2 linked regions of the Homo sapiens genome follow. Each later gene encodes a partner of the first gene's protein in a complex. Each region holds a gene or a part of one and is shown in the gene's direction. Other genes may lie near its edges.

What was found.
Region 2: TRAPPC9 (region 1) and TRAPPC12 share a complex: the UniProt entries of both Homo sapiens proteins name them as parts of the multisubunit TRAPP (transport protein particle) complex.

What each region holds. Positions count from the first base shown.
Region 1 is NC_000008.11:140,433,723-140,440,749, reverse strand, and holds part of TRAPPC9 (trafficking protein particle complex subunit 9), read left to right. Parts: intron 1-1,552; coding exon 1,553-1,698; intron 1,699-5,509; coding exon 5,510-5,638; intron 5,639-7,027. UniProt on the Homo sapiens protein: Functions as an activator of NF-kappa-B through increased phosphorylation of the IKK complex. May function in neuronal cells differentiation. May play a role in vesicular transport from endoplasmic reticulum to Golgi.
Region 2 is NC_000002.12:3,417,667-3,424,693, forward strand, and holds part of TRAPPC12 (trafficking protein particle complex subunit 12), read left to right. Parts: intron 1-4,033; exon of another isoform or gene 4,034-4,120; intron 4,121-4,214; coding exon 4,215-4,328; intron 4,329-6,858; coding exon 6,859-6,997; intron 6,998-7,027. UniProt on the Homo sapiens protein: Component of the TRAPP complex, which is involved in endoplasmic reticulum to Golgi apparatus trafficking at a very early stage.

The sequences.
Region 1 (7,027 bases):
GCTAGCTATGGACTGCATGCCTCTCCCTACGACTGAATTGAGCATCCTGTGAAAGGTTTGCAGTGGGGGAGGGACACAGACTGATTTGTGCTTTGGGAAGGACACTCTGGCTGTGTGTGTATAGAAGCAATGAAGGGGAAGGGGGTGCAGGGTGAGGAGTCAGAGACTAGGCGGAGGCTGCTGAGGTGACTGCTGTTGGGATGGGAAGAGCAGCTCAGATGCCTTTCTTTTCTTTTCTTTTTTTTTTGGGAGTCTCACCCTGTCCCCCAGGCTGGAGTGCAGTGGCATGATCTCGGCTCACTGCAACCTCCGCCTCCCGGGTTCAAGTGATTCTCCTGCCTCAGCCTCCTGAGTAGCTGGGACTACAGGCGCGTGCCACCACGCCCGGCTAATTTTTTGTATTTTTAGTAGAGATGGGGTTTCACCGTGTTAGCCAGGATGGTCTCGATCTCCTGACCTTGTGATCCGCCCGCCTCGGTCTCCCAAAGTGCTGGGATTACAGGCGTGAGCCACTGCACCCTGCTAGATGCTGTATTTTCTTATGGGGAGGGTCTGTTAGCAGGGGCCATCCTGACACTGCCTTGTGGCCAGGAAGGAGACAAACGAAGGCTGGCGTTTCTTTTTCTTTCTGCGTCTGCCTTACGTTGTGATCTTTGTTTAAAACTTATTCAGAATGGAAATGCTAAATTCCAGAGTAACAAAGAGTTTGTTGAACTCGTTAGAGTTACACATGATAGGATTTAACATTGTATTGAGATGTGTCAATAACATTCATTTACTTAGAAACGTCACATCTTCTGGATTTCCAGAGGAGTTTTATTCTTGATAAGTTTGCTTTCTTGATGAGGGAAAGTTTAATCCAGCTGCAGTTTTTCTTTAAAAAAAAAATCATCTATCTTAAGAAATATAACATTTAAAGGTTAGATGTATTTAAAAATGATAAAAGGAATACTTTGGTACAGTTTCTTTGGTTTCTGAGTTGATTAGGGACTCAGAAGCCTTTGCATTATTTAGTGGTATATCCTTGCCAATATTTAAAGAGCTGTTAGTGAGCACCCCAGGCCCTGCTCTCTGGAAGCTTTCCTAAAGCTTGCCCTGAAATAGCGAGGATGAACGTCTTGTTTGCTAAAGCCAAATGGTTGGCTAATAAGACTCAGCATAGCTGTCTTTATAAAATAATAAGAGGTTTGATGTTAAGAAGTGGAAGATAATTGATTTTTTTAAAAAGCTGAAACATAAACTTCCTTATGCTAATGTTACAACTGGAAAATCTAAAAAGAAAAATCCAACTGTAACATTGCCTACGTGAAAGACATGGTAGAAGTCCTTACGTACCGATCACCTTTAAACAAATTGCTTGGCAGTACATTTTTGAAATTAAGACCACTCCAGCTCACATAACTGGCAATGATTATTGCTGACTTAAAATTATAGAGCCTACAGTTGCCTTCTTAGCATTTTTAGTAGTGAGAGAATTGAATAGTGCTTAGTCAGAGTGCTTTCTGGGTGGGAGTTGTATAGTAATAAAGATACATTTTCATGTATTTTCTAGACATTACAAGAAGCGGTGCCAAGGCCGCATGCGGAAGCACGTGGGGGACCTGTGCCTGCAGGCAGGGATGCTGCAGGACTCCCTGGTGCATTACCACATGTCGGTGGAGCTGCTGCGTTCTGTGAATGACTTTCTGTGGCTTGGAGGTAAGATGAGCTGATGAAGATGATCTGATATGTAATTGTTTCAACTGTTAATTAAAATGAGAGGCTGGGTGCGGTGGCTCACGCCTGTAATCCCAGCACTTTGGGAGGCTACGGCAGGCCAAATATGAGGTCAAGAGATTGAGACCATCCTGGCCAACATGGTGAAACCACGTCTCTACTAAAAATACAAAAATTAGCTGGGCGTGGTGGCACGCGCCTATAGTCCCAGCTACTCGGGAGGCGGAGGCAGCAGAATTTCTTGAACCAGGAGGCAGAAGTTGCAGTGAGCAGAGGTTGCACAACTGCACTCCAGCCTGGCAACAGAGCGAGACTCCATCTCAAAAAAAAATAAAATAAAATAAAAAAAGAAATGAGAGGAAACGGCAGAAGAAATTCCCCAAAAAGAAGGGATGAGGGAGGAAAAGCAGCCAGCCTGTGCTGGTTGCCACGAGCAGTGGCCTGGGATGCTTCCCTGCTGTATCTGCTGCCCTCCTCCCACCCTGCCATGCGTCCTCTGAAGGAGGCCCTGCCCACACTTTCCCTTTTCCTCTGTTCTTAGTATACCTTGCCCTCTGCTTTGGATGCCGTTCCCCATGATCTTCACCTCTTAGACTCCTCCCTCAAAACCTCCTCCATGTGTCACATGATGAATGGATAAACGAAATGTGGTATGGGCATACAGCGGAATATTATTCAGCCATGAAAAGGAGTGAAATTGTGATACCACTGCAGCACGGATGAACCTTGACAACTTTGTGCTAAGTGAGAGAAGGCAGGCATGAAAAAGGCCGCAGATTGTATGATTCTATATATATGAAGTGGCTAGAATAGGCAAATCTATAGAAGCAGAAAGTAGACAACTGGTTCTAGGGGCTGGGAGGAGGGGGAATGGGAAGTGACAGTTAACGGGCATAAGGTTTCTTTCTGGGGTGATGAAAATGTTCCAGAGTCAGTTAGTGGTGATGGTTGCACAGTTGTGAATATACTAAAAACTGCTGACTTGCACACTTTAAGTGGGTGAATTATATGGTATGTGAACTCTATGTCAATCTTAAAAATTAAAAGAAAGGGAAGAAGAAATCCTACTTCAAAGCACAGCCATCTCTGATCCCCCGCAGCAGTCGGCAGAGCGGGTGCCCTGCCTGAGATGTTGCTGACACTTCGTGGTGGAATCGGATGTCTGTGTGTGGTCTTCCCTTTGGGGACTGCGCCTCCTGGAGGTGGTCCTGGGAGGATGGACTGGCTGAGTCCATTGTGTGGGTAAGGACTAAAACAGGGTTCTTTCGTTGAGGTTGACAGTTTAGCAAGGACACCTGTCAGCCACTTATGATAATACAAGTCGGAATGAAGTAATGAGGTGAGTTCTGTAACAGAAGTTTAACGAGGTGCCGTAGAACATATTAAATATAACAAATTCTTTCGTTCTTGGGGACGGAGTCTCGCTCTGTTGCCCAGGCTGGAGTGCAGTGGCATGATCTTGGCTCACTGCAATCTCCGCCTCCTGGGTTCAAGCGATTCTCCTGCCTCAGCCTTCCGAGTAGCTGGGACTTACAGGCATGCACTACCACACCCGGCTAAATTTTCTATTTTTAGTAGAGACGGGGTTTTGCGATGTTGGCCGAGCTGCTCTTGAACTCGACCTCAGCTGATATGCCTGCCTTGGCCTCCCAGAGTGCTGGGATTACAGGCATAAGCCACTGTGCCCAGCCAAATATAAGAAATACTTCAAACGGCCAGGCATGGTGGCTCATGCCTGTAATCCCAACACTTCTACAAAAAATAAAAAATAAAAAAATCTTACTTCACCTCACTTCTACAAAACAAAATTAAAAAACATTAACTGGGTGGAGACCAGCCTGAGCAACATAGGGAGACCTCACTTCTACCAAAATAAAATAAAATAAAATAAAATAAAAAGACATTAGCTGGGCTTGGTGGTCTGTGCCTGTAGTCCCAGCTACTTGTGAGGGTGAGGCAGGAGGATCGCTTGGGCTCAGGAGGTCAAGGCTGCAGTGAGCCACGATCGCACCACTGCACTCCATCCTGAGCAAGAGTGAGACTTTGTCTCTTAAGAAAAAACCAAAATAAAACTTAAAATGGACTTAAATTTAGTTTTTTAAAGAGGCTAGGGAAATAGAAGTGGGGAAAGAAAGGGAGTAAGAATTAGGGATGGAAAAGAAAAGAGAATCAGATAAAGGATTATGCAGGCTGAGAAAGACATAGTTTTACTTGGTTTTCTTGAAAGAGCATTGTCTCCCTAAGTACTCCTTATTGTATCAATTAGAGAATCTGTGCATCTCCCAGTGGGCTCTGAGACTAGGGCATGTGCAGCAGGTGCTTCTCCAGAAAGACTGGTACTGCCCATATGCCTTCCCCATGCGGCGCTGGACTGGATGAGGAGGGCTCCTAAAGGGCACACAGAGAAGGACGGTGCTGTGTGCCGTGGGCCTCTTCCATGCTCAGCCTCTCAGAAGTGGACAGTGGAGTTGTCCACAAGCTACTTAGGCCTGACATCACAGCAGACTGAATGTAGAAGCTGATAGAAGATCCAGCTGACTTGTATTAACTCTGATATTAAAGAAATGTGTGAACATGTCAAATAATGCCATTCCTCCAGTACTTTATTTTTGTTTTGGAAAACAATTATTTTTCATAAAACTGTTAACACATGACAAGCTTATTATTTTATTTTTTATTTTTATTTTTTTGAGTCAGTCTCACTCTGTCGCCCAGGCTGGAGTGCAATGGCGTGATTTCAGCTCACTGAAACTTCCATTTCCCAGGTTCAAGCGATTCTCTTGCCTCAGCCTCCCGAGTAGCTGGGGCTACAGGTGTGTTTTATCATGCCTGGCCAATTTTTGTATTTTTAGTAGAGTCAGGGTTTCACCATGTTGGCCAGGCTGGTCTTGAACTCCTGACCTCAAGTGATCCACCCACCTTGGCTTCCCAAAGTGCTGGGATTACTGGCATGAGCCACTGCGTCTGGCCTATTTTAAGAGGAATTAATACATAAATACTTAAATCCTTTTCTCAGTTTTATTTTCCAATATGGTAAATATCTACAGGTGTAACCCACATCACAAAAAAAGCTCTTTGTGATCCTAAGTCATTTTTAAGAGCATCAAGGAGTTTTTAGACCAAAAGTTTAAGGAGCACTGAGTTAATGGATAAAGATGATAGAGATGAATACTGTGGCACACCTTCTAAGGCATGTGGCATAGCTGGAGATTATTAGGTTGTTACGTCATGAGAGAAGAACGGACTGTGTAGCGAGTTAATATGGCTGTTTTTGAGGAAGAGGGAGGACTACAACCTCAAAAGGAGCAGATGCCTATGGGGTGCATGGTCTGGAAAGGCATTCTGGTCTTGCTTTGGTGCTATTACTGTGAAATATTTTCAATCCAGGGCACTTTCTGTTATACATCTCTGTAGCTCCAGAACCTGGCGCAGTCTGCCACACAGTTTGTGCAGGAATGCCGGCCACGTGAATGGATGAACGCAGAGGCTGGCCTGTTTTACGTGTGCAGTCAGCCCTGCAGGGAAACCTTGAGTGTGGTGAGAGTGTTCTGCATTGCCTGCCTGGACATGGGCATGGGAAAGACAGGTGGCAAGTTCCCATTTGCAAAAAACTAGTGATCTTTAGGTTTGATCTTTGTTTTGGGAGAAAAATTGGCATTTCCAAATAATCCACCTGTTTAAATCATTGTTAGTTACTGCAGTTTGAGCTAATGAAGGGTCACTGACTTGACTAATGATGCTGGTTTTTGTTTTTTGTTTTCTGGTTTTTGTTTTTTGTTTTCTTAATGCCCAGCTGCCCTGGAAGGATTGTGTTCAGCTTCTGTCATCTATCACTATCCTGGTGGAACTGGTGGGAAGAGTGGAGCTCGGAGGTTCCAGGGCAGCACCCTTCCTGCTGAAGCAGCCAATAGACACCGGCCAGGTGAGCTCTGCCCTTTTTCCGGCCTCTGCTCACTTGCAGTCTTTAAATAAAGCAGACTCATTTGTTACTTTTTCCTTTGAGTTAGGACTAATATTTAAATAAACTGTAAAATCTGTTGAGTCAGTAATTTTTTTTTTTTTTTGAGACAGAGTCTTGCACTGTTGCCCGGGCTGGAGTGCAGTGGCGCAATCTCGGCTCACCACAGCCTCCACCTCCCAGGTTCAAGCAATTCTCCTCCCTCAGCCTCCTGACTAGTTGGGATTACAGGCGCCCGCCACCACACATGGCTAATTTTTTGTATTTTTAATAGAGGCGGGGTTTCACTATGTTGGCCAGGCTGGTCTCGAATGCTTGACCTCGTGATCCACCCGCCTCGGCCTCCCAAAGTGCTGGGATTACAGGCGTGAGCCACCATGCCCTGCCCAGAAATCTTGTATGAGACATTTTGTTCTGATTTTATTGAATACTTTCAATCTTACTGAATACCACTAATGGGTTAGAATGATTGGTTGATTTCTGGAATACTTGTGTAAAATTTCCTGGTAGAACAGACTTGAGGTTCTGTGTCTAAGTCTTTTTTATAATTTTATGTATTAGGAGAAGCTAGTCCCAGAGGTCAATTTTAATAAGCTGATTCAGGGCCTGGGAGCAGTTTCTTATTTTATTGGCTGATGACATTCTCTCAATGAGTTGTTTGATTTGCTTATGCTTGGTAGAACCAATGAAGAGTGAGAAAACTTCTTGGGTAGAGCAGACCCACGAATGCTGAATGAACATGAACGTTTTGGTCCTTGATGAATGAACCTGCCTTTAATGGCTCAGGATTTAGTCATCATGTTGCATAGGTCACAAAGAAGGAAGCAACAAAATAATGAAAGCAGGGATTTATTGAAAACGAAAGTACACTCCACAGTGTGGGAGTGGGCCGAGCAGCGGGCTCAAGGGCACGGATACAGAATCTTCTTGGGTCTAAATACCCACTAGAAGTTTCCCATTGGCCACTTCATGCTCACCTCTTGTAAATGAAGTGGTAGCCTGCAGTTAGTCTGATTGGTTGCGGAAAGCAGCCACTCAGAGGCTAAGGTGAAGTTACAAAGTTATGCTTCTATGCAAATGAAAAGTAGACAAAGTTATACTTCTCTGCAAACTAAGACTCCACCAGCAATCAGTCTGAGTGGTTCCGGACAGCCAGTTTCCCACCTGCCATGCAGAAAAGGTCAAAGGGAGCAGCCTCTGGTCCTTTTGTTACTTAGTCATGGAAAGTTAGGGTTTTCCTTTCAATGTAGTTGTAGGAAGTCTGTGTGAAACAACCTTAAGTTCTTTGCCTCTAGATCCTATTCTTCTGCCTCAGGCTTATCTTTTTTGTGATTGAGAAAATTTTGATTTTTT
Region 2 (7,027 bases), on another chromosome or scaffold:
TGCAGATTCCGCCAACATTTACTCATCGAACTTCTTTGTTCTTCTTTCCACGAGAATTAAAACCTTAAGTTTCTCATTTTTAAAAATGGTCATTGGCCGGGCGTGATGGCTCACGCCTGTAATCTCAGCACTTTGGGAGGCCGAGGCAGGCAGATCACCGGAGGTCAGGAGCTCGAGACCAGCCTGGCCAACATGGCGAAACCCCATCTCTACTAAAAATACAAACTTTAGCCGGGCGTGGTGGCGGGCGCCTGTAGTCCCAGCTACTCAGGAGGTTGAGGCAAGAGAATCACTTGAACCCAGGAGGCGGAGATTGCAGCGAGTCGAGATCGTGCCACCGCACTCCAGCCTGGGCAATAGAGACTCTGTCTCAAAAAAAAAAAAAAAAAAAAACATTGTCATAGTGGCAGGCACAGTGGCTAATGCCTGTAATCCCATAATCCCAGCACTCTGGGAGGCTGAGGTGAGTAGATCACTTCAGCCCAGAAGTTCAAGACAAGCCTGGGCAACATGGGAAAACCATATCTCTACAAATACTCGCCTGCTTCTGCCACTCTGCACCATCAATATAAATAATAACTAATTCACAATAATCAGTCATGAAAGAATAAAATGGAAAACATGCCAAATGCAGGCCCCTGCTTTGTTATCACTGCATGCCATACACATAAAGTTCTCTGTCACGTGACTACAGGAGCATCTCCATTCCTGTGCCTCGTCCTCAGGTATCAGACGCAAGCCACTCGCGGGCTGAAGTCAGCCCACAGTCCTCCTTGAAGTCAACAGAAATGAACTACTGAGCCACGAGGGGCCTAGACCTGGGATCCGCCAGCGTTTTCTGTAAAAGACCATAGAATAAACATTGTAGACTTCCTGGCCATACAGTATCTGTCCAGCTCCTCAGCTCTGCTGTGAATGCCCAGCTCTTCCATGGTAGCACAGAACCTTATCACCGTGCAGGTGCACACGAGGCTGGGCTCTGGGTTCCTGTGAGCTCTGCCTACCAACTCAGGCAGTAGGGGGTGGGGGGCGTCCAAAGGATGTGCACAGATTGCCAGCACCAGGCCCAGCTGCTGGAACATCCTCATAGCTTTACTCACATCTACACGGACGCCTTAAGTTCACCCCATCAGTGCAGGGAGACAGGGGCCTTCAAATGTGATGACACGACACTGCTGTGGCCTGTGCTCTTGGAAGCCTGCAAAGGCCAGCACACCCGACCCTCCTCTGCCTCACCTCCTGTGCCACCCCATCCTCACCTGCTTCCCCAGCCTCTCCTCATCCACACCTGCTCGGCCCCTCCTCCACCGCCTCCCTCCGGCCCGCTGGTCCTTACTGCATCCCCTCGGGCCCTGCACCCTGCCCTCTGCTCCCTGTGCCCCCCATGCCTGCTCTCGCCTTGTTTTGCACACATTCTGTCCTCTTCTAGGGTCTCCGCCCCCTCCCCTTCCCTGATTAACTCCTGCCTGTCCTCACTGTAGGTCATGTCCTGAGGGAAGAGGGCCCCAGCCTTTCTAGCAGGAAAGGCCAGAGCCTTAGGCCTAGGGAACCAGGAAGGGAGCAGTTATTAGTTGCCCCTGGATACAGAATCTGCCTAGATGCATATATAGAACTGGTTCAGACTTGGCACAATCTCTTTCCCTCTCACTCTTTCACATTTGCAATTCAAAGAGAATATACAGAGCCATTTGTATTATATAAAGTGATTATTGCATTGAATTTAGACTAGAGAAGGCATTTGGAGATCGTTTTAGTAAATTATCGTAACCAATCTAAAAATACTTCTGAACTGTCAACCAGAACACAGAAATCCTGTATTACTTGCTGTAGTCTGGACAGTTTAGGGGAACGTGGCACCGATCTCATCTTCACCGTCGATCAGTGGTTCTCTGACTTGGTCCAGTGGCCGCACACCAGCTAGTGAAGAAAACCACAGACTCCAACTGCACTGTGTACGCTCTGGTGTCCTCATTTCCAAAAAAAAAAAAAAAAAATCTACAAGATAGAGTTTAAGAAATCTCATTTGAGTTGCCCTGCTAATATTTGCAGCTCGCTGGTGGGTGCCGTGGAGGCCAGTACTCACCGTCAGGCTGTGGCAGGTACAGTGAAAGGAAAAACTCCATGAGAGAACGGTGGAAAGTTCACCTGAGAGTGAAACGCATGCCAGTTAGAGTGGCTGAAAAATAGCATGGACAACACCAAGTGCCACGGGACGTGCAGCCGTGGGACCCCTCACTGCTAGGGAAGGCAAGATGGCACGGCCACTTAGGAAGACAGCTTGGCGGCCTCCTACAACACTAAACATACTCTTAGGTACAACCCAGCAATCCAGTTACTGCATTACGCTCCTGGATATTTCACCCAGTTATGCCGAATGCTTATATCCACACAAGAATCTGCCCAAAGATGTTGATACCAGCTTTATCCATAGTTGCCAAAAACTAGAGGCAACCAAGGGGTCCTTCGATAGGTCAGTGGGTAAACACACTGGTAATGTGGACAGTAGGATGTTCAGCATTTAAAAAAAAAACAACTATCAACCCCTCAGAAGACCTGGAGGAAACTGAGATGCCTGCAGCCCAGGGACGGCTGGTGGCTTGCAGCAGGTCACACGGCTACTCAGGCGTAGAGCCTGGCCTGTCTGAAGCTCAAGGCCCAGCACCCGTTCCTTTCCTTACACATAGAGTTTCACTAGGCACGCACACGCTGACTCTGGATTGATGAAGAAACAGTTTGGGAATTTTTAACAGCATCGTTCACATTTTTAATGCCTGCCTCCTGCCTGGCACTGTGCTCAGCACTTTCATGTATCTTCTTTAATTGTCACATCTGTGAGGTGGGACAGATGACCTCAGCTCTGTAAACTCAGCCATTGCTGAGCCTGCAGTGTGAGTGTGAGGCCACATGTCAGAACCCCGGAAGACACAAGCCCCACTCTCCTGCCTTCAACACAGCCCCCCACACCGCCGCTGTGGCTGGAATTGGAGCAGGTCGTTAGCTCCTGCCTGAGGAAGCCCAAATAAAGGACTGCAGAACAACTGTAGTGCAAAGCTGAGACTCATTGCCCTCCTAGGCGTTTCATGAGCAGGTCCTGAGTTCTCTGTGTCCCGGCGTGGAGTGCAGGAGGCGTGGAAAGGGAGTAGTGCGTGTGTGAGTTAGTATACAGAAGAAGTGTGTGGCAGGCTCTACCACACGTTTTTAAAATATGTAAACTCCTAAACTTCTTGTCAGAGAAGCGCTTGGCATGCACACAAAATCATTTAGCTAATTCTTGAGAAACATATTGTTTAATTGTCTGTCTCCCTTGCTAGATCATACCACTAATGAGTGCTCGTTCACTAACCTCCCCGCCAGCCTTGCAGTCTCTGTCAGGCAGGAGGTACTTAAAGCATGTTTATTGACTGGCTGCAGAAATGAGGACATCTACCGTATTCAAAGATAGTGCCCGTTACATTGAGAAAAGACAGAGTGAGCATCCACTTTTAGCTTCTTAAAAGGTTTAAACATTCTGATCTTATTTTCCCATTCATTTGCCTAATGGCTGTCCTTTCTGTATTGCACAAGGGCAAAGATAAACACAAGAGTCTGTACGAATCAGCCAGTGTGTCAGTACCAGCCAGCCTTTCCATGTTGAAGCCGTAACGTTAAGTGATGTGAAAGTATACTGTGCATTGCCACACGGGCCTGGAACATGTTGTGTTCACCCAGTTCATTGATTTTTTCATATTGATAAATTAAAATTATGAACATATAAAGCCAGTTATTTTAGAGTCATATGCAAATCTTACAGATACAAATAAATATGTCCAACACATAGCATAAAATTTCCTTATTGATTTTAAATTGACAGAAATCTTAAGATAATCTTGCTAAAAAGGAAACCAGTCATATAGATTGAGAGATGTGCGGAGCTTTCCAATAAAAAGCCTCTTCCCGATGTTCTATCGGTTGTTGAATTGTAATGTTTTTATGATTTGATCGGCTTGAACTGTACCTCACGCTTGGCTCTCTTATTGCCTAATTACACGTGCAGCGTTGACAAATGGCATGCCCCTCCGTGCCGTCAGCACACTGACGTTGTCACCATTACTAACGGCTGGCTGGCGCTGCTTCCAGCAAGGTGAGCAGCTGTGGCCAGTGGCTATGCGTTTGGGTCATGGATTCCACCATGCCTTGCATGTGTGTTTGGTCACATGTTCTGCCGTGTCTTGCAGAGCTGCAGAAACTGGAGGGCAGCAGTGGACCTGTGCGGACGTCTCCTCACAGCCCACGGCCAGGGCTACGGCAAGAGCGGGCTGCTCACCAGCCACACGACAGATTCACTGCAGGTGAGAACACCTTTCAGGTGCTGGAGTTTAACCTGGCTTATCACAGTCTGGGGACATGGACAGGACCATGGCCTTTCATGCCAATAACAAAAAGTATGTTTTCATATCCTGCTTCTTTCTCTCCTAATTATATTGTATATACTATACTGGGGCACTGGAATTCTCACTTCGGCCCGTCAGGATGCCTGTGCGCCCCAGAAGCACGCTCACAAGTGCCCACACTCAGTCTCATGGTGGAACCGGCATGGCTTTGGGTCAGCAGGTGGGTTCGCCTCACGACTGGCAGTAGCAACTGGCCTGTGCGGGGCTCTGGGGCGTGTCTGGGCCCGGTAGGAAACAGTGACAGGAGCAGTTGGTTCTGTCCACCCCAAGGACGGAGGGTCCATGTGCCATTTGCTCCTCGTGGTATATCACTTGCTCTGAAATTTAAAAAAAAAGAAAAAAGAAAAGGGAATGCACAAAATAGACTTGTGAACAAAAGGAAACTCATCTGAGAAGAAGGAACAGCTGCAAACGTTGATACATTCTTACCTTTCCCTGGGGAGTTTTTTAACTGTTCTTCTAGCTTACATGGGAATCCCCCGGGACTAAACAGATCACCAGATCCTTCAGAACTGTGATGAGCTTTTGAAAGGAGCAGCTCTGGGGAGCCCTGACAGCTTAGCTATTTCCAGCAGGCTCCTTCTCCTTCTTTCTCTTCCCCCAAGAGCCGACAAGAAGAGCCGCTCTAGCTTTAAATGTACTTTCCCCCATCACCTCTCCATCCATTGGTTTGCCAAATCTTAGGCTGTTTTCCTATCATTTCTCTCCAACCCACCACCACCCACAGTTCGAGCTCTCATTGCAGTGTTGCTTTGGCCTCTTTTATGAACTTAGTTCAAGTTTCTTTATTCACATTCATTCCATAAACTACCTCCAAAAAAGCACACTTTTGATCATCTCACTTTCCTGCTGGAAAACTGTGCCCGGCGCAGTGGCGCATTGACTGTAGTCCCAGCTACTGGGGAGACTGAGGCAGGAAGATCACTTGGGCCTGGGGCTTCTGGGCCGTAGTGCACTTTGTTGATCAGGTGTTGGCACTAGCTCAACACCAATATGGTGACCTCCCTAGAGCCAGGAACCACCAGGCTGCCTAAAGAGGGTGAACCACCCTCCTTTCCAACTAGGTCTGAAACGGAGCTAGTCAAGAGCTGGATAGTTTCCCATTGGCTACCATGTGAAATTTCATCTTCTCGTGTTGTATGCAAACCCTCAGACCATGACAGGCTATGTGTACACTATGGAATGGTTAAATCAAGCTAAATCGCATGCATTGCCTCGCATGCCTTTGTGTGTGTGTGTGTGTGTGTGTGTGTGTGTAATGAGAACACTGAAAATCTGTCTTAGCAATTTTTAGTATACATTGTAACTGTGTCACCACGTCTACAATAGATCTCTTGAGCTTATTCCTTGCGTCACTGGATTTTGTTTCCTTTGACTAACATCTCTCAAACCTCCCCTGCCCGGCCCTCCTCCCCACCCCCAGCCCCGGCACCCGCCATCTACTCTGCTTCTGTGAGTTCAGTGTTTTCAGATTCCATGTGTAAGTGAGGTCACACGGTGTTTGTCTTTCTGTGCCTGGCTTGTTTGTCTAACGTCATGTCCCCTAGGCTCATCCACAGCACAAACGACGGGATTTCCTCCATGAAAGCTGAGTGGTATTCCACTGTGCGTCATGCCACGTTCCTTTATCCGTTCATCCTTCAGCGGACACTTAGTGAAATTCATTCTTCTCATCAGTAAAGTCAGATCCAATTAGGTCATTTCTAAGGTACCCTTTTAATCCTAAGTCTCTGGCTCTGCAGCTGTCTAATGCAAATTCCCACCATTTTCCTGAATGTACCCCTGAGAGCACACTGTGCTCTCTCGTATGTTGTGTTTTGTCCACTCTGTACCTTTGTCCTTACGTTCCCTGAACCAGCAGACCCTTCCTTAGCCTGTGGCCCCTTGAAATTCTGCAGCCCTGAGAGCTGCCCTCAAACACAACCCATCCCTGCGCTTCCTCTCCTTCCTGCTCCCGTTCCCGCCGTCATTCCCCCGCCCTCCACTAGGTGGCGCATTCCTTTGGTGCCTTTTCATTTTCATGACACCTAGCACAGTGCTTTGCACACAGACCTGCTCAGTAAGCACTGTTTACTTATTGAGTAAACAATTATGTAAAATCATTCACATTGTTATTAAGCTCAATAGTAATTTCTTCTTAGAGACAGGGTCTCGCTATGTTGCCCAGGCTGGACTCAGACTCCTGGGCTCAAGCAATCTTCCCACCTCAGCCTCCTGAGTAGCTGGAACTGCAGGCATGAGGCATCATGCCCAGCTTCAAGAGTAATTTTTTAAATACGATTGTGTAAATATGCAAAGATAGAAAGTTAGGTTAGCCCTTATTTTAATATATGAGAAATTAACCTCTAACACCAACTCATAAGGAATAGCAAATTCTGAACTGGATATATGTAGATAACCTATTGTTTCCATTGTATTTTGTTTTTAGCTCTGGTTTGTCAGGCTGGCACTACTAGTGAAGTTGGGCCTTTTCCAGAATGCTGAGATGGAATTTGAACCCTTCGGAAATCTTGATCAGCCAGATCTTTATTACGAGTACTACCCGCACGTGTACCCTGGGCGCAGGGGTAAGGCCATGGTATTTAATATTTGTACAT